Regions from separate parts of the Homo sapiens genome. Here regions 1, 3, 4 and 5 are each linked to region 2. The links come from fine-mapping of genetic effects on gene expression. A gene starts in region 2. Each other region holds a variant in brackets. All regions are shown on one strand. Distances are between the middles of the regions.

The links. PIP is the estimated chance that this variant, and not a neighbour inherited with it, causes the effect.
Region 1: its variant is the best candidate, but not a certain one, in a credible set for the expression of DAPP1 in whole blood (TOPMed, PIP 0.58).
Region 3: its variant is the best candidate, but not a certain one, in a credible set for the expression of DAPP1 in whole blood (TOPMed, PIP 0.62).
Region 4: its variant is the best candidate, but not a certain one, in a credible set for the expression of DAPP1 in blood mononuclear cells (TOPMed, PIP 0.82).
Region 5: its variant is the best candidate, but not a certain one, in a credible set for the expression of DAPP1 in whole blood (TOPMed, PIP 0.73).

What each region holds. Positions count from the first base shown.
Region 1 is chr4:99,912,029-99,917,137 of GRCh38, forward strand. All of the region lies in intron 3 of DNAJB14 (DnaJ heat shock protein family (Hsp40) member B14), which reads right to left. Among named protein-coding and RNA genes, the nearest start is that of LAMTOR3, 20 kb to the left of the region's middle. The variant A/G (reference allele first, on the strand shown) is at 2,019.
Region 2 is chr4:99,814,619-99,819,727 of GRCh38, forward strand. It overlaps DAPP1 (dual adaptor of phosphotyrosine and 3-phosphoinositides 1), which reads left to right and starts at 2,209. Exons shown (of 9, transcript NM_014395.3): 1 at 2,209-2,396. The coding sequence starts at 2,296.
Region 3 is chr4:99,955,576-99,960,684 of GRCh38, forward strand. All of the region lies in intron 1 of H2AZ1-DT (H2AZ1 divergent transcript), which reads left to right. Among named protein-coding and RNA genes, the nearest start is that of H2AZ1-DT, 7.6 kb to the left of the region's middle. The variant A/G (reference allele first, on the strand shown) is at 3,124.
Region 4 is chr4:99,900,038-99,905,146 of GRCh38, forward strand. It overlaps DNAJB14 (DnaJ heat shock protein family (Hsp40) member B14), which reads right to left. Exons shown (of 8, transcript NM_001031723.4): 7 at 3,689-3,861; 8 at 1-1,115. The coding sequence ends at 991. Among named protein-coding and RNA genes, the nearest start is that of LAMTOR3, 8.2 kb to the left of the region's middle. The variant T/TG (reference allele first, on the strand shown) is at 2,212.
Region 5 is chr4:99,966,951-99,972,059 of GRCh38, forward strand. All of the region lies in intron 1 of H2AZ1-DT (H2AZ1 divergent transcript), which reads left to right. Among named protein-coding and RNA genes, the nearest start is that of H2AZ1-DT, 19 kb to the left of the region's middle. The variant C/G (reference allele first, on the strand shown) is at 2,388.

The DNA.
Region 1 (5,109 bases), 97 kb after region 2:
TATTTCGAGTTCATTTTGTGTATAAGGGATGATACTTTTCGTCAGGGTTAATTTTTTGGCCTATGGGTGTCCAATTGCCTCAAAACCAACTGTTGAAAAGGCTATCTTTCCTCCATCGAACTGCTTTTGCATCTTTGTCAAAAAACAGTTGGCTATATTGGTATCAGTCTATTTCTGGGTTTCCTATCTCGTTCTATTGATCTATGTGTGTATCTCTCTGCCATTACCACGCAGTTTTGTTTACTGTTTATCTATACAGTAAATCCTGAAATCAGGAACACTGATTACTCCAACTACATTCTTTTAACAGAAATAAATGTTTTTAAATATTCAGGTTCTTTCTTCCCCTCATATGAATTTTAGAATAAAACTTGTTTCTATCTACAAAACAAATCCTGCTAGGATTTTGACAGGAATTGTGTTAAATCTGTATATCAATCTGTGATGACTTGACTTTTTTTTTTTTTTAAGACAGAGTTTTGCTCTTGTTGTCCTGGCTGGAGCGCAACGGCGCGATCTCGGCTCATTGCAACCTCCACCTCCCAGGTTCAAGTGATTCTCCTACCTCAGCCTCCTGAGTAGCTGGGATTACAGGCATGCGCCACCACGCCTCGCTAATGTTGTACTTTTAGTAGAGATGGGGTTTCTCCATGTTGGTCAGGCTGGTCTAAAGCTCCCGATCTCAGGTGATCTGCCCACCTCGGCCTCCCAAAGTGCTGGGATTACAGGTGTGAGTCACCGTGCCCAGCCGACTTGACATCTTTACTATGTTGAATCTTCCCATCCATGAACATGATATTTCAGTCCATTTATTTAGCTATTTTCTGATTTCTTTAATCAATATTGTATAGCTTTCAGTATATAAATGTGATAAAAGTTTTATTAAACTTACACCTAAGTATTTTTTTGTATGTATGATTGTAAATGCTAATGTATTATTAATTTTAGTGTCTAAATATTCATTGCTAGTAAATAGAAATGCAATTAATTTTTTGTAGATTTATATTGTGTCCTGCAATCTTACGGGATTTGCTTTGTAGTCACAGTTTTTTCTGTAGATTCCTTGGATTTCTACATAGATAATCATGTCATTTGCACATAACAACAGTTTTAGCTCTTCTTTTCCAGTCTGTATGCCTTTTATTTCCTTTTTCTCTCTTTAACGCAGTGATTACTACTTCCTGCACTTTGTTGAATATGAGTGGTAAAGAGATATTCTTGCTTTATTCTTGATCATAGGGGAAAAGCATTCAGTCTTTCACCATTTAATGTTAGCTTACAGGAGTTCTGTAGTTGCTCTTTATCAAGTTGAGGCAGGTCCCTTCTATTGCTATTTTTCTGACAGTTTTTATCATGAATGGGTGGTGAAATGTATCAAATGCTTTTATTCCACTGATTAATATAATCGTGGGATTTTTTTTCTTTAATTAATGTGGTGGATTACACTTATTGATCTTCAAATAGTGAATTGACTTTGCTACCTTGAAATAAACTTCTATTGTTTGGGGTATATAATTCTTTTTATATACTGCAAAATTCTGATATTTTGTTAAGGACATTTGGGTTTATCCCACAAAGTATACTGGTCTGTAGTTTTTTTTTTTTTTTTTTTCTGTAATGTCTTTGGTTTTGATATAAGCAAGGTAAAACATTTCTTAACATTAACTGGAAAATGTCTCTTCCTCTTCTATTTTCTGGAAGAGATTATGTAGAATTAGTTTTAATTCTTCCTTAAAAAGTTTGGTAGACTTCTTCAATAAGAGCATCTGAGCCTGGATATTTCTTTTTTGGGAATTTCATAATTACAACTTTAATTCACTGAACAGTTCTGTCTTAGTCCATTTTGTGTTGCTATAGAAAAATACCTGAGACTAGCTTATGGTTCTATAGGCTGAAAAGTTTGTGGGCATAGCCTTGGCTTCTGGTGAGGGCTTTTGTGCTGCATAACATGGTGGAGAAAATCAAAGGGGAAGCAGACAGGTGCAAAGAGGGGAAAACCTGAGGGGTGTCCTGGCTTT[A/G]TAACAACCCACTCATTCGGGAAATAATCAATTCCTTCAAGAACTAATCTAGCCTCAAGAGAGCAAGAACTTACTACTGTGAGAACAGCAGCAAGACATTCATGAGGGATCTGCCCCCATAACACAAACACTTCCCACTAGGCTACACCTCCCAACACTGCCACATTGAGGATCAAATTTCAATATACTGAACCAACCCAAATGTCCAACAATGATAGACTGCATTAAGAAAATGTGGCACATATACACCATGGAATACTATGCAGCCATAAAAATGATGAGTTCATGTCCTTTCTAGGGACATGGATGAGGCTGGAAACCATCATTCTCAGCAAACTATCGCAAGGACAAAAAACCAAACACCGCATGTTCTTACTCATAGGTGGGAATTGAACAATGAGAACCCTTGGACGCAGGAAGGGGAACATCACACACTGGGGCCTGTTGTGGGGTGGGGGGAGTGGCGAGGGATAGCATTAGGAGAAATACCTTATGTAAATGACGAGTTAACGGATGCAGCACACCAACATGGCACATGTATACATATGTAACAAACCTGCACGTTGTGCACATGTACCCTAGAACTTAAAGGATAATAAAAATATATATATAAAATAAAAAATAAAAATAAAAATTAAAAAATTTCAATATACCCAAACCACAGCAATTTCTACAGGGCTATTCACGTTATCTATGTCAGACTGAGTTGTGATGATTTGTATTTTTCAACTAACTGGCCCATCTCATCTAACTTGTAAACTTATGTATATGGAATTGTTCATAGTATTCTCTTATTATCCGTTTGATGTCTGCAGTGATATCCTTGTCTCTGACACCATTTCTGACAATGGTCATTTCTGTCTTCTTTTTTTGGTCAGTCTTTCAATTTTATTGATTTTTTTCAGAGAACCAGCTCTGTTTCATTGATATTCACTATTGTTACTCTTTTCAATTGTACTGATTTCTACTCTTATAATTTCTTTTGCTTGCTTTGAGTTTATTTTGCTATTCTTTTTCTAGATTTGTAAGGTAGAAGCATAGATAACTGATTTGAGGCTGTTCTTCTTTTCTAACATATGCATTTCATGTTACAAGTTTCCTCTCAGCATTCCTTTAGCTGGTCTTCTCAAATTTTAATTGTTGTATTTTCATTTTTAGTTAGTTCACTGCGAGCTCCGCCTCCCAGGTTCATGCCATTCTCCTGCCTCAGCCTCCCGAGTAGCTGGGACCACAGGCGCCCGCCACCACGCCCGGCTACTTTTTTGTATTTTTAGTAGAGATGGGGTTTCATCGTGTTAGCCAAGATGGTCTCAAATTCCTGACCTTGCGATCCACCCACCTCGGCCTCCCAAAGTGCTGGGATCACAGGCGTGAGCCACTGTGCCTGGCCAAGTTAGATCAATATGTTTTTTCAAATTTGTTTTGATATTTCCTGTTTGACCCATGGATACTTAGAAATTTGTTGTTCAGTTTCCAAGGACTGGACGTTTTCCTATTACCTTTGTGTAACTGATTTCCACTTTGATTCCACTGTGGTTAGTGAACATACTTGTATGATTTCAATATTTTAAATTAGTGGAGGTTTATCTTATGAATCAGGATATGGTCTCTCTTCCTGTGTGTTCTGTGGGCACTTGAAAAGAATTTGTAGTCTGCTGTTGTTGAGCGGTATGTTGTATAAATGTTGATTAGATCTTGTTGAGTGATGGTGGTGTTTAGTTCTTCTATATTCTTGTTGATTTTCTGTCTAATTGTTCTATCAATTATTGAGAGAGAGGTGTCAGAGTCTCCAACTATAATTGTGACTTTGTCTATTTCTTCCTCCAGTTCTATTAGTTTTTGCTTTACATATTTTGCAGCTGTCTTTCGGTGCATATACATTTATGTCTTAAAGGACTGACCCTTTTATCATGTATGTGTTCATAATGTACTTCTCTGGTAATTTTTTTTACTCTAAAACCTACTTGCTCTAATATTAATATAGCAACTCCTGTTTTCTTTTGATTAATATTTACATGATATATTTTTTCAATCTTATTTTTATTCTGGATATAGTGTTATCAAATAATTTTCTTGTAGACAACATACAGCAAAATCATGTTTTGTTTTTGAAACAAGGTCTCGCTCTGTTACCCCAGCTGGAGTGCAGTGGCACAATCACAGGTCACTGCAGCCTCAACCCCCCAGGCTCAAGTGATTCTCCCACCTCAGCCTCCCAAGTAGCTGGGATAACAGACACGTGCTACCACATCCAGCTAATTTTTTAATTTTTTATAGAGATGGGGGTCTCACTGTTGGCTAGGTTGATCTTGAACCCATGGGCTCAAGTGATCCTCCCACCTTTGCCTCCCAAAGTGCTAGGAATATATAGGCATGAGCCACTTCACCTAGTGAAAACATGCTTTTAAAATGCATTATGCCAAAAGACTTTTAATTGGCATAGACAGGTCACTTACATGTAATGTAATTACTGATAAGTTAGGGTTTAAGCCTGCCATTTTATTTTTTATTTTCTGTTCTTTCATTCCTGTTTTCTTTTTCCTGACATCCTGTGAGTTAGTTTCTTGAACATTTTTTAGAATTCCATTTTGACTTATCAACAGTGTGTTCTGAGTATATATCTTTGTATAACTTTTTAGCGGTTGCTCTAGGTATTATATATACATTATATATACATAATTTATATGTGTTATATATACATAATTTATAACCCTCTGGTGTCATCATTTTGTTAGTCTGAATTAAGTACAGAATCCTTACCTCCCTTTACTTCCCTTTATCTTCCTCCATTTAAAACATAATTGCCAGCCGGGCGTGGTGGCTCAAGCCTGTAATCCCAGCACTTTGGGAGGCTGAGGCGGATGGATCATGCAATCGAGAGATAGAGACCATCCTGGCCAACATGGTGAAACCCTGTCTCTACTAAAAATACAAAAAAATTAGCTGGGTGTGGTGGCACATGCCTGTAATCCCAGCTACTCGGGAGGCTGAGGCAGGAAAATCGCTTGAACCTGGGAGGCGGAGGTTGCAGTGAGCAGAGATTGCACCACTGCACTCCAGCCTGGGTGACAGAGACTACGTCTCAAACAAA
Region 2 (5,109 bases):
CATGATCTCAGCTCACTGCAAGCTCTGCCTTCCGGGTTCACGCCATTCTCCTGTCTCAGCTTCCTGAGTGGCTGGGATTACAGGCGTCCACCACCATGCCCGGCTAATTTTTTGAATTTTTAGTAGAGACAGGGTTTCACTGTATTAGCCAGGATGGTCTCGATCTCCTGACCTGGTGATCCACCCGCCTCGGCCTCCCAAAGTGCTGGGGTTATAGGCATGAGCCACCACGCCCGGCCCAGAACAAGATTCTAAATCCCCTTTCAGTTACACAGCAATAGATGTCCCGGGAGGGATGGGCTCCAGCATTTTGTTGAAACTATCTAGCAAGCCTCCTGCAGCTGTTACCACTGCAAAACTAAGTGTGTAGTTAGTGGAGTGGGCGGGGTGGTAGGGATACTGTGAAAAATTGAGTAAATGACAAAGTGGGACAATGACATCAAAGGAGAGGGCAACAGACAGGACAGCAACATGAGGAAGGGCAAAAGGCAGGAAGATTCAGCCAGAAAAGCAGGACGATCTTAGAAAATTCTGCTACTTGTACTTCCAAAAAAGTTAAGAAAAAGAACAACCAGAATTTGCTAAAAATGGGAATGAAATAGATACTAAAACACCAAATAAAGGGCTCTAGAGAGGGAACAGGAACTCTAGTGCCCAGGCTGTTCCCCTGTCACTGCTGTATGCATATTCAGTATCTCCCTGGCCTGCACTGGCCTCTCTGTTCAAGTGGGCCCTGTCCTTCTCTGTGAGCAAACTGTAGCCAAAAGAATTTAAGTGCTCATTTAGTCAGTTATATATGTATTATCAGAGCTTAGTCTTCAGCAGACTGCCTCCAGACACTCAGGAACTTCCCACTGGCAACCAGTGTTACCCGGGTCTCACCGATCCCGGGTGAACAGTGGTAATAGGGAGGAAGATGAAGGATAGAACCATTGCACAGCAGCCTTTTGCAATCATCTAGTCCTTTAGGAACAGTTCTGCTGTGCTGTTTAGTCCTCAGGCCACACTGTGAGAACAAGTTACAGAGCACTGTGGTGAGTGCTGAATGAGTCAGGGAGTAGAGATAGGAAGAGAGAGAGAGAAAGGGAGAGGGAGAGAGAGACCTGTAGGTACATAGAAAAGGCAGGAAGCAACATATGTCCTTGACTCATTTGATACTGCACTTTGTTCCACTTCCCAAGGATTCAGTCACTGCAATTTACCTTTAGCATTCCAGGCAGATAGAATCCTGCTCTACATATGAATCTGGGCACAAAGCCATGCAGGTGTGAGTAAGCCCATGAAGGAAGTGGCACTCAAAGACTCTAGGAGTTCAGGCCAGGTGCAGTGGCTCATGCCTATAAGCCCAGCACTTTGGGAGGCCGAGGTGAGTGTATCACCTGAGGGTGAAACCCTGTCTCTATAAAAACACAAAAATTAGCAGAGCATGATGACGGGTGCCTGTAATACCAGCTACTTGGGAGGCTGAGGCAGAAGAATCACTTGAACCCTGGGAGGTGGAGGTTGCAGTGATCTCAGGTCATGCCATTACACTCCAGACTGAGTGACAGAGCGAGACTGTCTCAAAAAAAAAAAAAAAAAAAGACTCCAGGAGTTCTAATATGCCCCATTAGGTGGGCACCAGAATGGCCCCTTGTAACTTTTTCCTACCTTCTCCTCTCCTAATTCTTTTTCTGTGGAGGAAACAATAATTGTCTCTGAATCATCCCTATTCGGAGCATTGAGGATATATTAGAAGGTCTGGGTAAACAAGCAGAAATATTGCAAAAGTGCTAAAACATCAAACTTCAGGGTCGAATTTGTGGTTTGCTTCTGCTTTTTCTATCCACTCTAAAGGTGTTCCTGATAGAGAAGCTTCCTCAGTGTTCCCTGTGTTGGTGTGTAAGACAGAAAGAAGATGGGGTAAAAGAGTGCACGCATCCTCCACTACAAACCAGAGGCTGATAGCATTAGGGAGAAGCTAGGGTTTGGCCTCACACAAGCAGTTTGCACTGTTGTCCAATCCCAGGTGGGGTGGTTGCCTCTTCATTTCCTTTGATAGCAACCGCCTGTTGCGTGATGTAGTGTGGGTGTCCTCAGAGGTAGCTACCTAAGTTTGCATACTTCCTGACTGACAGAACACTCCTGCCAGTGCCTCCAGGCCAGGGTGGTGGTGTTGGTGGGAGGAGTAAGTAACCAAGTTTCACTTCCTTGCCTTGGAGACTCAGAGCCATAGCAGGCTGCTGTCTCACAGAGCGAGAAGGTGTCAGGAGCAGCCCAGTTGTGTCTCTCTCTCTACCTCTGTGAAGGGCGCGAATGGGCAGAGCAGAACTTCTAGAAGGGAAGATGAGCACCCAGGATCCCTCAGATCTGTGGAGCAGATCCGATGGAGAGGCTGAGCTGCTCCAGGACTTGGGGTAAGGCAGCAGATCTCCTTTCAAAGTACCTAGTGGGTGGACATTGACTCCGCACTCCCACCTGCATGCTTTGATTAATGACTATCTTCAGTGCCTTGTTGCCCTCTGCCACCTCAACCATTTATTTTTTTCCACTTTATTCATTTGTATCTGTTAAGTATCTTCTTGTCTGGGGCTAATTCCATTGGAAAAGCAGGCATTATTTTTCTAGATGTGAAAACAAGTTGGTTGAGAAAATAGGGAAAAAAATCAAATGTTGGACATTCTTTGAGAAGAGGGACAGAATTGGGATATAGAGGTGATGTTGCCTGGCTTCCTTGATGTTGCTCTGGTTTATGAATAAATGCGCTGTTCAAGAGTTTCTAGCACTGACCCAGGGACAGTAAAAGGACTGTGTTTCTGGTAAGATAAACAGAAAGCTTACCCTACTGTAAGGGAGAGGGACTTTTTCAAAAGACAGAGAATGAGGAAGTTCCTGCAACAGTCTCGCTTGTATATTTCTTTCTCCTGATACTGCATTTGTGAGATTTGATATCGTATGTATGTCCAGAGAGCCAACTTTGAGCCTTTCAGTACCAACAATCCAGGAAGAGGATAAAATTTCTGCTTCAAACAGGTAAGCATAGGTAGGTGGAGTCATTGGAGCTCTGTCTTTAAGAAGGGACCCAGATGACAACTCATCCGGGTATTTAATAAGAAACAAGTATTACACAAGAGAGGAATTGGGGATTTCCCAGAGAAACTGCCTAATGCACTGGGAATATCCCAATGAAGGTGGCTTTGACACCTGTGCATGAGGAGAGGCAAAACCTTTACCTTCTGCCTGGACAAATAGCTCTAACTCTTCATAGCAATCCAATGACATAGGAGCTGTTGTCATCTTCATCTTACAAAGGATGAAAACAAGTACCAAACAGGTTTGAATAACTTGCTTGCTAGTCACACATCAATTACATAGCAAAGCTGGGCATCCAACCTACCACAGGCTATGTCCGAAACCAAAGAAAAACCAAAATAGAGTTGAAATCTCTCTGTGTTAAGGCTGCAGAGATTGTATCTTTTTATGTTGTATTACTGTAAAAGTTTATTAATAATTCCTGTCTTTAGATTATAAAACTGAGGTCTCGGAATTGAACTCTACTTTCATTTGGCAAATCAGATAAAACACCTGGAATTTTCATTAAAGAAAACTCCCCTTATTAGGAAGCCAGAGCTCTAGAATCTCTCTATCCCTCTAGATTGAATCCCCAAACAGAAGAGGTAAAAGGCCCTTCTGTGAGCATCCAGCACAGGTGTCACCAAGTCCAAAAGCTAAAGCTGAACTGTGGCCCTCAGTGTCTTATTGAACTATTAAGTTACAATGCTTTACATGTTCTGTTAACTGTATTCCCAGCCCACTGTAATAGAAAACCCCAAAGGAGGAGATAGAGGAATATATTCAATTCTGGTCCTTTAGTTAAACAAACAATCCTAGAACCCAGAGTCTATGGTTGAGTACTGTGGGAACACACTTAGATGACAAAGATGAATTAGATGCTGTCTCTGTGCCCCACCATGATGTCAACAGCAAGAAGCAACTACAGGTGAAACCCACGGGTGGAATAGGACTGTGTCTTTCCTCCATGTGCAAAGAATAGACATTGAATACAAAACTGAGTCACACCACTTCCCTGCAAAAAAAAAAGGGTACATTCATGGCCAGATTTCCCTATTTCAGAAGGCGTGAACAATTAATAAACATGAGGATGATTTCTATAGCAATGGGCAACCTGCAGTTATCTGGGAAAACTGCTCTACAGTCCTGGTTCTTGACCTTGGCTGTGCTCTGGAACATCTTGACACCCAAACCACAGACTTGACAAATGATTTCAGTATCTCTGGGGATGGGTGTTTTCTTGTCAAACTCTCCAAGTAATTCCAAAGTGAGACCCTAGGTTGATGATCACTGCATAGAATATGTATCTACCAAATGCATTAGGTAAATGTGGTCTTGTTTTTCATTTTAAGTCTGTTGGGTGTGTACTTGAATCTTAAAATTACTAATAAATGTTGATATTTTGTTTGTTGGTTTAGGGGCATTTCGATTAGCAACTTTATTGAGGTTATTTTACATATCATAAAATATACCCGTTTCAAGTGTACAATTCAATACTTTTGACTAACTTTACAGAGTGATACAACCATCACCATAAATCAGTTTTAGGACATTTCTGTTCTCCCAAAAAGAACCCTCAGATGTATGGCTTATTTAAGCATACTCAACAGTGTGCTGGAAAAACAGCTGGGAAGAGTTGGGGTGTGGAGAAAGCCCTGATTTCAAGAATTTGCCTAATTCCCTGGTATAAATACTCCCACTATAGACAATTTCAAGCTGCCAACAATTTAACATCATCGAATTGAATATTTAATAATCAACTTGTGCCAGTACTTGCTCCTGCAGCACCTCACTGATACATTTTTTATAGATAACAATTTGAGAACTCTTGACAATGACTTGTTGCCTCTGCCAGAATACTGAACATAACTCGAACATTATAATGACTTTTTCTTTGAACCTTTAACCACTGGCGAGATAGAATCTCTACCAAACCTTCTGATTAATTTAGTTTCCAAAGACCTCCTTAAAAACAAAATGATTTAATGTAATGGATAGATAAAAGGTAGCTGGTTTTAATGACTTAATTTTTCAATTATTTTTAAGAGGTTATTTGAG
Region 3 (5,109 bases), 140 kb after region 2:
GCCTGTAATCCCAGCACTTTGGGAGGCCGAGGTGGGTGGATTGCTTGAGGCAAGGGGTTGGAGACCAGCCTGGCCAACATGGCGAAACCCTGTCTCTATTAAAAATACAAAAATTAACTGAGCATGGTGGTGCATGCCTGTAAGTCCCAGCTACTTGGGAGACTGAGGCATGAGAATTGCTGGAAGCCAGGAGGCGAAGGTTGCAGTGAATGGAGATCATGCAACTGCACCCCAGCCTGAGTGACAGAGCGAGACTCTGCATCTAAATAAATAAATAAATAAATAAGGCTGTTACAAAATAAGTATCTGATTGGCTGCCAAATCAACAGTACCTCTAGTTTAAAGGACAGAGACAGTTGCAAGCTGGAGCGTTTTGAAGAGTTTACGTTTAAATGGACTAAGGAGAGTGTTTGATTGGAATGGTGAATTGGTGTAAGAAGTAGCACTTAGAAGGTAGGACACATAGTGTTTTAGTCTGTTTCGTGCTACTGTGATGAAATACCTGAGACTGCATAGTTTATAAAGAACAGAAATTTATTTCTTACAGTTTTAGGGGCTGGGAAGTCCAAGATCAAAGCAGTGGCAGGTTTGGCTGTCTGGTTGAGGGCTGCTCTCTCCTTCGAAGATGGAGCCTTGATGTTGTATCTTCTAGAGTGGAGAACACTGTGTCCTTACATTGTGGAAGGCAAAGAAAGTTGAAAAGGGATGAACCCTCTCCATGAAGCCCTTTTATGAGGGCACCTAATCTCAATCATGAGGGTGGTCCCATGACTCAATCTCCTCCCAATGGCCACACCTGCCAACACTTTTGCATTGTGAACTAAGTTATAGCATAATTTTTGAAGGGGACAAAAACATTCCAACCATAGCTAATGTTCATCAGAATAAAGCTAAATTTGGTCTTGAAAATAAGTTTTGACCAAAAGGTGTAAACTTCAGTGGTGGGTGCAACATCCAGGAAGTTTCCTTAAATGAGGCAAACCAATTTTTTATTTTTGCTGACTGGATTGAAGACAGAATTGGAGAGCCATCTTGAACCATGAAATGAGCTTAGGAATATAGGCCACACATGAGGGAATAACAAGATAAATGGAGCAAAGGCCTTAGATACTATGGAGTCTCAAACCTACCCTGGATCTCTCTGAACATGGGCATCTATTTTGTTTGAGCCCCTTTTATTTTGGGTCATCTTTCACTTGCAGCTGAACCCAATCCTAACTATTATAATGAGTCAATACCCTAAATACTTGGAGAAAGATAGCAGACTTTACCCTGAGAGACTGAGGAACCAATTAATATTTCTGAGAAAGAAAGAATACAGGGTTCCTCATTTTTAGGATACTAATCTAATATGGGTTACAGGGCAAATCAGAAAAGAGAAAAATTTTGTTAGAAGGCTGATAAAGTTGATATCAGTTAGGTATAAAGCCTATGATACAGTTTTGCTGTGTCCCCACCCAAATCTCATCTTGAATTCCCATGTGTTGTGGGAGGTACCAAGTGGGAAGTAATTGAATCATGGGGGCAACTCTTTCATGTGATGTTCTCATGACAGTGAATAAGACTCACGAGATCTGATGGTTTCATTGTTTTGTTATGTTTTGCTTTTTTTGAGAAAGAGTCTCCCTCTGTCACCCAGCCTGGAATGCAGTGGCACGATCTCAGCTTACTGCAACCTCTGCCTCCCAAGTTCAAGCCTCAGCTTCCCAGAGTAGCTGGGACTACAGGCGTGCACCACCACACCCAGCTTTTTTTTTTTTCTTTTTTTGTATTTTTAGTAAAGATGGGGTTTCATCATGTTGGCCAGGCTGGTCTCAAACTCCTGACCTCAGGTGATCCGCCTGCCTCAGCCTCCCAAAATGCTGGGATTACAGGTGTGAGCCACCACATCTGGCCGAGATCTGATGGTTTTAAAAACAGGAGTTTTCCTGCACAAACTCATTCTCTCTTTGCCTGCTGCCATCCATGTAAGATGGGACTTGTACCTCCTTGCCTTCTGCCATGATTGTGAGGCTTCCCCAGCCACGTGGAAATGTAAGTCCAATTAAACCTCTTTCTTTTGTAAATTGCCCAGTCTCAGGTGTGTCTTTATTAGCAGCATGAAAACAGACTAATACAGCCTAAAACTTACATAACACTGAAACCAAGAGAAGGTTGTAAAACATCTTGAAAGAAAAAGCACTAATATTTTGTTATTAAATATGCTGTTTAGGAAGATGTAGGGGGGATGGTGGATACTAAGCACTTAAGAGAAAAGAGCCAGGTTTTTGAGGTTGGTGGTCTGGGATATAAAGTAAAAGATCATCTATAGAATAGGAGAGGTAAAAGGATAGATGCAAATTAAGAGGGGTAGAGAAAGAGGTAAGTCAGGAAAGTTATGAAATATTGACTGTACATTGACATTAGGGGAATCCAAGTGGAATTTCCTACTAAGTATGTTGGCAATAAGAGAAAGCAATCATTAAAAAGTCAGGAAACAGCAGATGCTGGAGAGGATGTGGAGAAATAGGAACACTTTTACACTGTTGGTGGGACTGTAAACTAGTTCAATCATTGTGGAAGACAGTGTGGCAATTACTCAAGGATCTAGAACTAGAAATACCATTTGACCCAGCCATCCCATTACTGGGTATATACCCAAAGGATTATAAATCATGCTACTATAAAGACACATGCACACATATGTTCATTGCAGCACTATTCACAATAGCAAAGAGTTGGAACCAACCCAAATGCCCATCAATGATAGACTGGATTAAGAAAATGTGGCACATATACACCATGGAATACTATGCAGCCATAAAAAAGGATGAGCTCATGTCCTTTTTGGGGACATGGATGAAGCTGGAAACCATCATTCTCAGCAAACTATCGAAAGGACAGAAAATCAAACACTGCATGTTCTCACTCATAGGTGGGAATTGAACAGTGAGAACAATTGGACACAGGGCAGGGAACATCACACACTGGGGGAGGCGGGAGGGATAGCATTAAGAGAAATACCTAATGTAAATGACGAGTTAATGGATGCAGCACACCAACATGGCACATGTATACATATGTAACAAACCTACGCATTGTGCACTTGTACTCTAGAACTTAAAAGTATAATAAAATAAAAAA[A/G]ATAAATAAATAAAAATTTTGAATTAAAAATAAAAGAAAGAAAATTAAAAGGCAGCCAAAGAAAAAGACCTAGAAAAGTAAAGTGTGATTTCACAGTGGGCACAACAACTTTACACTAAACTAGAAAACTCTCTTTAGTTATAACATCTAACAAGATGGTGTTCACATTTCTGCATGTGTATTGCTAGCTTTGCATAATGAACTTCAAACCTGTTTTTGATCTGTGATACTTGACTGTTCACCAAAGATGAAATGTTGACATGGATTCTGTCACTAAATTGGGTATTACCAAAACTCTTGGTTGTTATGTACATTTCTTGTGCCCAATGTTACAAAAGAATCATAACTGAGAAAAACTCATGGGCTAAATTCCTTATGTTTGAAATTCCATACAGCTTTCTTAAAGGGAATCTAAGTGCCACATTTGTCCTAAAAGAGAGGCGCCACAAAATAGAGTGTAAAGTTATACAACATATACTTCACACCCCTCCACAGATTCAGCCTCAGGGCAGGAACCGTATAAAAAGTGTGACCATCACACCTTTTATTAAAATCCCAAAACAGATGTATGTGACTCCCCAGTCCTTTCAATAGGATGGAAATGGCTCAGAGAAGAGTCCAAAGGCTTTTCTTTCAATAAATAATCCTGAGATAACTGGCAAGCCACATGTAGAAAAATGAAACTGGGTCCTCATCTCTCACCTTATAAAAAAGATCAACTTATGATGGATCAAATAGTTAAATCTAAGACCTGAAACCATAAAATTTCTAGAAGATAACATTAGAAAACTCTTCTAGACATTGTCTTAGGTAAAGAATTCATGGCTAAGTACCCAAAAGCAAATGCAACATAAACAAAAATATATAAATGGGACCTAATTAAACTAAAAAGCTTTTGCATAGCAAAAGAAATAGTCAGCAGAGTAAACAGACAACCCACATAGTGGGAAAAAATATTTGTAAACTATGCATCTGACAAAAGGACTAATATCCAGGATCTACAAGGAACTCAAACAAATCACCAAGAAAAAAACCAAATAATCAAAAGACATGAATAGGCAATTCTCAAAAGAAGATATAGAAACAGTCAACAAACATATGAAAAAATGCTCAACATCACTAATTATCAGGGAAATGCAAATTGCAACCACAATGAGATACCACCTCACTCCTGCAAGAATGGCCATAATTAAAAAATCAAAAAATAACAGCTGTTGGTGTGGATGTTGTGAAAACGGAGTTCTTTTACGCTACTGGTGGGAATGTTAACTAGTACAATCACTATGGAAAACAGTATGGAGATTCCCTAAAGAACTAAAATTTGAATGGCCATTTGATTGAGCCATCCCACTTCTGGGTATCTACCCAAAGGAAAAAGAGTCATATGTGAAAAAGAAACATGTACATTCATGTTTATAGCAGCACAATTCACAATTGCAGAAATATGAAACCCTCCTAAATGACCATCAACCAACAAGTGGATAAGGAAAATATCGTATATGTATATATATTATAAATACTACTCAGCCATAAAAAGGAACAAAATAATGGCATTCGCAGCAACCTGGATGGAGCTGGAGGCAATTATACCATGTGAAGTAACTCAGTAATAAAAAACCAAGCATCATATGTTCTCACTTATAAATGGGAGCTAAGCTATGAGGATGCAAAGGTGTAAGAATAATATAATGGACATTGGGGACTCTTGGGGAAGGGTTGGAGGGGGTGAGGGATAAAATACTATACATTGGTGGGCACTGCTCGGGCGACGGGTACACTAAAATCTCAGAAACTGCCATTAAGGAACTTATTCATGTAACCAAAAACCACCTGTTCCCCAAAAACTACTGAAATAAAATGTTTTAAAATAAAGGCTTTTCTACACCCTTAGACTTTCTCAACTCTGTTTTGTAGTGGAATGCGGGGGTAGAGGAGCTTAAAGTCATTGGTTAGCACAGCATAACCTAGTGGAAACAAATACAGCTG
Region 4 (5,109 bases), 85 kb after region 2:
AGGGTTAAAAGGCACAAAGCTGTATTTTAGTACTCATTTTTCTTATTACTTATTTGTAAAGGAACTTCTTTGGATCCTGCTTAAATGATCACCAAGAAACTGCAAATTTCTATGGGGGAAAATGTGAGTCCTCTTCATAAATTTTAGCAGCCCTTCAAGGACATATACATCAAAATTTGGTGGCCTTTAAAGTATTGGAATTTTAAATGACATAACTGCACTTTACTGTTGAAGACCCTTTTAGTTTAATATTTATAGCCATTTCCTCATATTTTCTTTAAAATTTATCAGTATAGCATTTCATTTCTATGCATGTATATGTATAGTAATTCATAAAACTAAATAGCAAACTGATATTCTACACCAGTTCATTTATCTCAATATATATTTTGGAATATAACGGCAATATTAAAAATATCAATTCCCTCTAAGCTGATAATACTATAAGATTTTACACAAAGTTAAAGTTTTTGTTTTTTCTTTTTGAAAAAGTTTCATTGTTTAAAGTCCACATATTTGACACCTTGATAAGGAAAATGTAAATGTGTCATATAACATTTATTCCATCAATTTAAACTGAAGTGTCTCATGGAGCTAAACACTAAAAGAATTTAAATAAAAAAGCAGTAACCTGTATGTACACAAAATGATCATTCCATAAATATTTACATGACAAGGGAAAAAATGGAGAATCACTAAAACTGGAAATTGCTACAGGTGTGATAATCCTTTCTCATGACACTTTAGTTAGGAATCATGTAAGCTTTTAAAATGAAAATACTTGTAGAAGCGTTAACTAAAATATTCCATTTTAGTTTTCAGTTACTATTTAAAGGAGCCAGTAGGTCATAAACAGTCCAAGATTTCAGGAACCAACTATTCAGTTTAGTTTTCAGTATCAAATCTTTTCCTTCATCCCTCATGATGAAACCAAACTTACTTACAGAAAAAATAAAGAGTACGCTAAAAGGTATAAATAAAAATTCCAGTTCATCCTCCTTTATAAAGACTGGTAAGCCGCTCTAATTCTTTACAGTTGTCCATGCTCAAGGCATCTGCCTTCCTTCGGAGTCGATCATCACGGTATACTTTTGCTGCATACTGCATATCTGTTTCTGTTAATAAAGAAAAATATTTTGCTAATTGAATAAAATTTTTGTCACCTAGTTGCTTAAGCTCAAGTGATGCTTTACAGGAGCCCTTTGATATATTTTGATTAACTGACTTAAAAAAAATCAAAGTACAATTCCTAAAAGCCATTTTAGTAGGAAAAAAATTTTAATGAAAACTTTATTTGAAGTATAGCAGGTAAAACAAACACAGAAAATAAATAAGGATAGAATCCTGTCAACTCACGTTGGAATCCTTTCTCTCTACTCCTGTTCCCCAGTGGTTTAAAAACTATTCCTCTGAAGCATCATCTTGGACTCTTTTCCTAAAAATATTATATGCTTTTCAATACTGCCAGTGGTTGTTTCACTGTGGCCTTCTGTTAAGATTTCAGATTATCCCAAGACTTAAGTATTTAATAAAAAATTTAAAATCTTGTTCTGAGTTTACTTAAATTAAAAAATACATATAATAATATTACTGAAGGAACACAGATAAAAAAAATGCTTGTTATACGATCGTAATATTGCTATTCAGCAAATAAGTACTTCTGAGGCTTCCTTCAGTGTGTGGGACAGCACAGCTACTAATGATATACAGACTACAAATCAAAATTCTTCAAGGAGTATTTCTTGTTTTTTCCTGTTACTCTCAGTCATTTCACTGTTTATTAATACCTGTAAAGACTAGGAGCACTTAAAGAAGATGTAACAGAAAAAGAAATCAGTTACTTTCTGGAACACAATGGCCAAAGTAGAAGACATCTGGTTTATATGGATTAGTCAAGATCACATTCAAGATATACTCACAGTTAAGACAGTATTCCATTTGTAAAGATCTCCAGAAATAATCTTTACTAAATCAACTGGACTAGGATTAACAACTCAATCAATATTATCCTATGCCTTTTATTTACACATAATGCGCTTATATCTATTTACAGATGACTCTTCCCAAAGAAGAAATTTGAGACTTAGATAAACCGAAGTTCACACTGCTAACGAATGGCAGAGTCTAGATTCCAGTCCAACTCTCCAATGCCTAGCCTAATATTCTTTCCATTATTTCAAGTACTGCTTGGGCTGGATAATTTTTTTGTTG[T/TG]GGGGGGTCTGTGCATTGTAGGATGTTTAGCAGCATCCCTGGCCTTAACCCGCTAGATGCTAGTAGCAATCCCTTTCCATTCCCATCCCATGATGACACACAAAAGTATCTCCAGACGTTACCAAACATCTCTAGGGATGGGTGGGGTGGGGGAAGGGTGGCAACTCACTCCCAGCTGAAAACATAAAAATCACTAGTCTAATGTAAGCTTCTCCACACTGAGGACAGACTGATTTCACAAACTCATTGAGTTAGAAGTCAAAGAGGTCACATCTCTAACTGCCACTAAATAGAGGAGAAAACCAAGACCAGAGAGGTTAAGGACTCTCTTAGAAGTTACATTTTATCAACTTTTCCCTAGCAAGGGGGAGATGATGATAATTGCTGACATTTTCTGAGCATTCACTATGTGTGAAGTACTTTATTGCCTGATTTAATTTTCACAACAAACCCCATAAAGTTGGTTATTTCTGAGAAGACGTTGGAGCACAGGGCCTGGATTCTAGAGACAAATTGTCTGGTTTTCAATCACAAACGACCTCTATGACCTTGGGCAAGTTAGTAATCTCTCTTTGCTTCAGTTTCTTCATGTGTAAAATAAGTATAATCTCACAGGGTTGTTGTGAAGATTAAATGAGTTAATACTTACAATGTGCTTGGGACAGTGACTGAAACAGGCATTATATAAATGATAGCTATTATTTCCTCCTCCCACTCATCATCACCCATTTTACACATGAAACTCATAGAGGTTACAATTCGTCAGCTAAAAATTTCAGAGCTAGGATTCAACTTTACTCAGTTTAATTCCAAAGTCAGTTCTCCTAACACTACACTATATGGTCTACATTATTATTCACAACAATGGTCACAAAAACAAGAACCACAACACTCAATTCACATGCAACATCTCAGCAGATTCTTATATCAATCTTTATAGATGGAACTGTTCCTTAAATTAAGAAAACTGAGGCTGGAAAAGCCTAAGCAAATGAAGTGTTCTGAAGAGTCTCTCTGTGTACAAAGTAAAGAAAAAAGAAATGTCAACAAAACTCATTGTACATTAAATTCTAAATACAAAAGCTAAATTAATAGAGTTTCAAACTTAACTCTGAAAACAGTATGCATCTTAAAATTGATGACATAGTTTATCTGCCAGGATATTTTTTGTTTCTTGGTGGTACATAAAAGAATGATGTGTCTTATGATGGATATTATCAATACAATAAAATTTGGTATTACTTATTCAACCAAATATTTATTGATAACAATAGACAAGTACCATTTATTAAGTCCTTACTATGTGTCAATTCCGATGTTAGGCCACATGTATATAAAACACATGATCTCATTTAAGTACTGTGCTCCAATTATGTGCCAGGGAATTCCAGAACATTCCTTGAATAGGGAAATCTACATTAATCAGTTCCAAAGACTGCGAATAAGTTTTAAAATGTTAAACACATGACAAACTTACTTTGTTGTCTTTCTTTCCAGCAGTTATTTCGAATATTAGTCACATAATCTTCCTCCACACTCTTTTCTACCTTTTGTAATAACATTCCTTTATATTCATTTTTGAAGTCCTTGTTGACATAATAAACAACACCCAAGTTTTCTGTTTGCATTTTAATAGTTTGCCCAGTTCCACTGTAAAAGAGATGCATCATTATTTTAATTAAAATTGGACATTCCAATATGCTGCTATAAACCAAGCAAACAAAAACAATTAAAAATCATTGAAAAGTTAATATTGGTAATACAGGTTGAGCATCCCTAATCCGAAACTCTGAAATCCGAAATGCTCTAAAATCTAAGACTTTCTGAGCATCGACAAGATGGCACAAGTGAAAAATTCCAAAGCTGACCTCATGTGATGGGTCACCTTTTAATCAAAACACAGCATCATAGGTGGAAACTAAAAGCCTGTAGTTGTTTGTCGTTGCTATTGTTTAACAGCTGACACGGGTATTCTGGTGATGCTAATATGCTGGTGGTTATTTAAACCTGAATACATTATTTTTTCACTGTTAAATACTTATATGTGAATTAGAGTAAGAAAATTATTGCTTATCAGTAGCATATAAATTCAGAGTCAGGAATGATGCCAAACAACCACAGGTTGTCCACATGGGTGGCTGAGATAGTGATACCTTTGCTTTCTGATAGTTCAATGTATACAAACTTTGTTTCATGTACAAAGTGACTAAAAATATTGTATAAAATTACCTTCAGGCTGTGTGAATAGGGTATATATAAAACATAAATTTCATTTTTAGACTTGGGTACCATCCTCAAGACATCTCATAAAATATATGCAAATATTACAAAATCTGAAAAAATCCAAAATCCCAAAATCCAAAACACTGCTGGTCCCAAGCATTTTGGATAAGAAATACTCAACTTTTAATTTATTTACATTCTCTCACATTGCCTAAAACCATGATTTCATGTCACAAAAAGTAACCACATTTTTAAATATACTATGCTTTTGTAAAGTATCTCAATTTTTTGTTAATAAAAATCTTATTTGTATTATAAATTACAAAAATCAACTTGTAATTTATTTACGTTATCTCAAATTGCCTAAAACCATGATTTCATGTCACAAAAAGTAACCACACTTTTAAATATACTGTGTTTTTATAAAGTTATCTCAATTTTTTGTTAATAAAAATCTTATTTGGAAGAAATAAGGTAATTGTTATTTTTAGACCAATGTGATTTTAATACTGTAAAATCACTGATTTTTATTATTTTTTCTTTATATGCTTCTTATTTATTCATGCTGCTATAACAGCCAATATGATGTTATAGTTTCCTTTATGTTCACTGTATTAAAGTTGTCTAGATTGCATGCTGTATTAAATTTCCTTTATGTCCTGACCTCTTACACAT
Region 5 (5,109 bases), 150 kb after region 2:
AAAACATAACCTTTTTTCCTTATCCTTTCTTTAGAAAAAGAGGCCAAATGAAAGAATATGAATATCTCTTTAAAGTAATTAATGGCTTAAGGGCTACAAAGTACTTTGAAAACAAAAGCAAAAATTTCTCCTAATAAACAGCAACAAGAAACACATTTGGTCTGGCTGTAGTATTTCTGTCAGTGGGAGAATTAGACACACAAGGATAGAGTTCCACATTGTTTTTCATTGTTGTTGTTGTTTGTTTGTTTGTTTTGAGACAGAGTTTCGATCTTCTTGTCCAGGCTGGAGTGCAGTGGCGCGATCTCGGCTCACTGCAACCTCTACCTCTCAGGTTCAAGCTATTCTCCTGCCTCAGCCTCCCAAGGAGCTGGGAATACAGGCATGCACCATCATGCTCGGCTAATATTGTATTTTTAGTAGAGATGGGGCTCTTACCATGTTGGTCAGGCTGGTCTCGAACTCCTGACCTCAAGTAATCCACCTGCCTCAGCATCCCAAAGTGTCGGGATTACAGGTGTTAGCCACTGTGCCTGGCCCACATTGGTTTTTTACTTTGTGCCTGCTAAGGATCATTTCACTACGGTGATGTTAGGTCTTATTTAGATAAAATGTTATTCTGTCTTTTCAGGTGAATGGTAGAGAAAATAGATTATATTCCTGTGGGCACTGCTAGTACTTTCAATACTTTTATAATGGGCTCATCTGTATCTCTTTACTCTCATTTTTTCATTTTTTAATGGTCTCAATCTAGATGATTCTTTTCCCATTTAAAAAGCCATTATTTATTAATTGATTGATTCTTGAAAAGGCTAAACTTGTCAATGTTTCAACATTTAAAAGGCTAAAAAAAGTGGTATAGAGTGAAAATTCTCTCTCCCACTCCTATCCTTCAGTTGCTCAGCAATGTGTTTTCTCCATAGTTTCCCTGATCACCTGCTTTTGTTTACAAAGCTTTTGTTGCTTCCTCTATCTGAAATGTGCTTCAGATAGCTGTCAATTTTTGCACTTTACTTCTTCAAAATATGGCTCAATACTCTCCTTTAGTGAACATTCCCTGAGCCACCATCTCCAAAATTGATCTCTTATTCCCCTTGATTCTGCATCATTGAATATGGTTTGTACCCTGCTTTCTTTAATATACTTTAAATTGCTAATGCTCCTAAATTACTTTCATATTTTCTGGAATGATTTTAGATTTTTGAATAGCCTACAGATTTACAGTGCCTTGAAAGCAAGAAATGACTTTTATTTTATTTTTCCTACGTAGCAGTCTGGATCTATGCAACTAGTTGGTGCCTAGTATCTTCTGTATCCTCAAAAATTATTAACTGGCATTTCTCAAAATTTGGTGCATATCAGAATCCTGGGGCCGAGAATGGAGGGGAGGTGGAAAGTGGGGAGCTTTTGAAACTCGTGAATGGTAGGATTCACCCCATACCAATTAAATCAGAGTCTCTTGGGAGTGAGATTTGAGCATAAACAGTATTTAAAACCTGCTGGATGACTTCAATGCACAGCTATGTTTTAAGAATCAGTGATCTAACCCACTCCCTGCCCTCAATTTCAGTGATGACCTCATTCCATGAGAATCTGCTCTTCCTACCAGTGTTATACAATTCTCCCTGCATCTGCACCCATCTTCTGCTTTTCCCCCACTACAGCTAAGAAAGAGTTCCTCTGCTTCCCATAGGCCTCCTTCCAGCTGCCACATTGTCTTTGCTCCCTTTCACAGAAACCTTTTCATGGGATTTTTCTTTGCAGGTGGTTGTCACTTTTTCACCTCCAAATCTCTCTTCAACCACTTATATTTGACTTTCATTCCCATCAGGCCTCCCAAATGGTTCTTGTCACTGTTAATTGCCATGTTGCCAAACCCAAGGGTCAGTTTTCTTCCTTCTTTTTACCTCTCAGCAGCATGACCACACTTTCCACCAGATACTGCCATTTCTTGACTTCCAGGATACCATATGGTTGCTTCTCTTCTCCTTTTATTGCTTTCTTTCATTTATTTTCTCTTCACTACCTGACTTCAAGATGGCACTTTCCCAGGGCTTGGTCCTAAGCCCTCCTCTTTCTCCACATATTTCCATGTACAACTTTTAAGTAGAGATGATTTCAGATAGTAGATGACTGAAAATTTTTTACCTTTATAGTTAAGTACAGTTGTCTCTGGTTATCTCTGGAGATTGGTTCTACGAACCCCGGTGGATACCAAAATCATCAGATGCTCAAGTCGCTGATATTAAATGTTGTGGTATTTGCATATAACCTATGCACATACTCCTGTGTACTTTAATCTCTAGATTACTTATAATACCTAATACAATATAAATAGTTGATACACTGTATTGTTTAGGAAATAATGACAGGAAAGACATTCAGTA[C/G]AAACACAATTTGTTTTCCAAATATTTTTGATCCACTGTTGGTTGAATCCATGGATGTGGAATCCACGGATACAGAGGGTCCACTATTTATTTCACCTTGACAGGTAAGCATTAGAAAAGACTACAACCTGAAAATCAAACTCACATTAAGGTTAGAAAGTGAAGAAGAGTGAGTTCAAATAGCAAATCATATGGCAAATTTCAGAAAATCTGCTTTTTACACATCTCTTTTCTTTTCCTAAATTTCTTCTCAAGTTCACAGCTATCTTCACTCTTTCCAAAAGCCTCTATCTATGGTCAACCATTATATCTTCCCCTGGCCCCTTTATAATTTTTCCCCCAATCATACTCTCCAGCCTCTTGGTTCCATTCTCCCCCCTCTTCATTCATCTCTGGCAGAAGCACATCTTGCTGATGAGCTTCCAGATGCCCTGTATTGAAACTGCATATATTACTGAGAAGTTAGGTTTCACTTAACTGGGAAAGCTTCAAAATAGGGAACAAATACCTTGCAAGGAAGCCGTTGAAAATTTGCTGGATATAGAAGAGATACTCTGGGAAAGAAAGAGGTGTGGTAATAAAACAATATACAAATATTTTAAATAATAAAGTCTGTCTTAGACTTGTTGTCTAAGAATCTAGGATAATTCACATTTAAGAATATTGGTATTCTTTGGGAGCCCAGGAGCCCCAAAAGCACCTGGGTCAAGATCAGAGCTGGCATCTTGATCACCAAGTTAACTTATTTTAGCATTACCAATATATAGTCTCTCTAATTATTAGATTTGCATCTCTAAGATTCTAATATAATGGTCCTGATATAAAACTACTATTTTCTAATAGTTCTGTTAGAATCTTTTTATTTTATTTTATTTATTAAATTTGATTTCATTTCTTAGAGACTGGGTCTCACTGTCACCCAGGCTGGAGTGCAGTGGCACAATCATATCTCACTGCAGCCTTGACCTCCCATGCTCTAGTGATCCTCCCACTTCAGCCTCCTGAGTAGCTGGGACTACAGGTGTGTGCCGCCACACTCGAATAATTTTTTTATTTCTTATTTTTTGTAGAAATGGAGTCCCACTATGTTTCCCAGGCTGGTCTTGAACTCCTGGGCTCAAGTGATCCTCCCGCCTCAGCCTCCCAAATTCCTGGGATTACAGGTGTGAACTACTGTTCCTTGTCCCATAGAATCTTTCTAACTCTGACGTAATAAAATAAAATTTGACCTAACAGAATATCTGCAATAATTCTATTTTTACTTAATAATTCTAGTAGTACCTGCAGGTCATATTTAGATTATATATATTAGATTATAATAAAACTGCAAGCAGTATGTTGTTTTTGTATGACAGGAAATAAAATAATACAAATAACCAATATCTTAATGATTAACCCATTTCTGTTTTTATCCTGGTACCAAATTTTGGCTTTGTTTTTGCCATTTTCAATGGCGTTCTTTAGTATGGGGAGCATTCAGTCATCTCTTTCCAGAATCAACAGACTGTATCACCAGATAAACTGCCAATGAGCCAGATAAATAGGATATAAATCCTCAGTTTCTTTAGAGTAAAAAAAATACTAACTTATACATTTATGTAATGATTTTTAACAAGTCAGCCCTGTTTTATCCTGCTCCAAGATGGCCAACTAGATGCAGGCAGGAGGAACATCTGCAACCAAGTGACCGAGACATTGGTAAGACTGGTGCACTCCTAGCAGAACTTCAGAGGGAAGCCATTGAGAACAGATGGAGAAAAGACACAGATGCTGAGCTGAAGGGGAAGGAAACTGGGAACCTTGCACAGGGCTACTGTTCACCAAGACTCATTCCTGGTGTCCAGCAACTCCTGGGGAAGGGGTGACTTGAACAGGCAAGGAACAACCCACTTTTACCACAGGACTCTGGAATCCTGGCAGGAGGAGACCCTGTGATCACCATGGACACTTGCGTTGGCAGGGAGAGCTGCTTAGATAAGTGGTTGGGGCAGAACTACAGCCAGCATGGAGCCCAGTTGGTTTGATGTGGGAGCATCCTTAGTGGAGAATGGCCAGTGATGCCCATTCCCCTAGGTTCGACTTGATCCCATAGGAGACTTGAGCCCTGGTAGTACTGTGCAACCTGAACTCTGCTGGGTGGTCTTACCTGTGACACAGGGCGGTCTGACCTGAGCACCCTTCATTCTGCTGGTCTCTCCTGGGGACCCGGCTTGACCACGCCTGCTTGCAGTGCAGCCCCCAGGTACCTCCTGGGGACCCACATTATAGCTTCTGGCTGGTGGACCTGGCCTGACCAGCAGAGTGCTCTAGCAGAGAGGCTGGCAGACTCTCACCAGCCCACCTGCACCCTCCCCACTTGGCAGCCTGCCCTGTGTGCTTTGCCCTGTGTGATGGCTACTCACTTATGGCCATCCCTCTGCATCACTTTGCTGGCATGGGTGGACCTTTCCTTTCCTTTCTTACCAGCGTGCGTGTACAGGTGCACCCTGCCATGCCACTGCTGCCTGCATAAGTGCACCCATCCTTCCCCCAACCGCACTGCCATTGTCGTTGGAGCATTGGCAGGCACGAGCCCGCTAGCCCTGCCCTGGCTAATGCCCCAGCCCTGTGCTGACACTGCCGCTGGCATGAAACATAGGCATGGAGGACAGTGGATCTACCTCCACCCTGAGGACCACCTCCACCTACAGGAACAGGCACAGAGGGCACACACAGTCCTGTA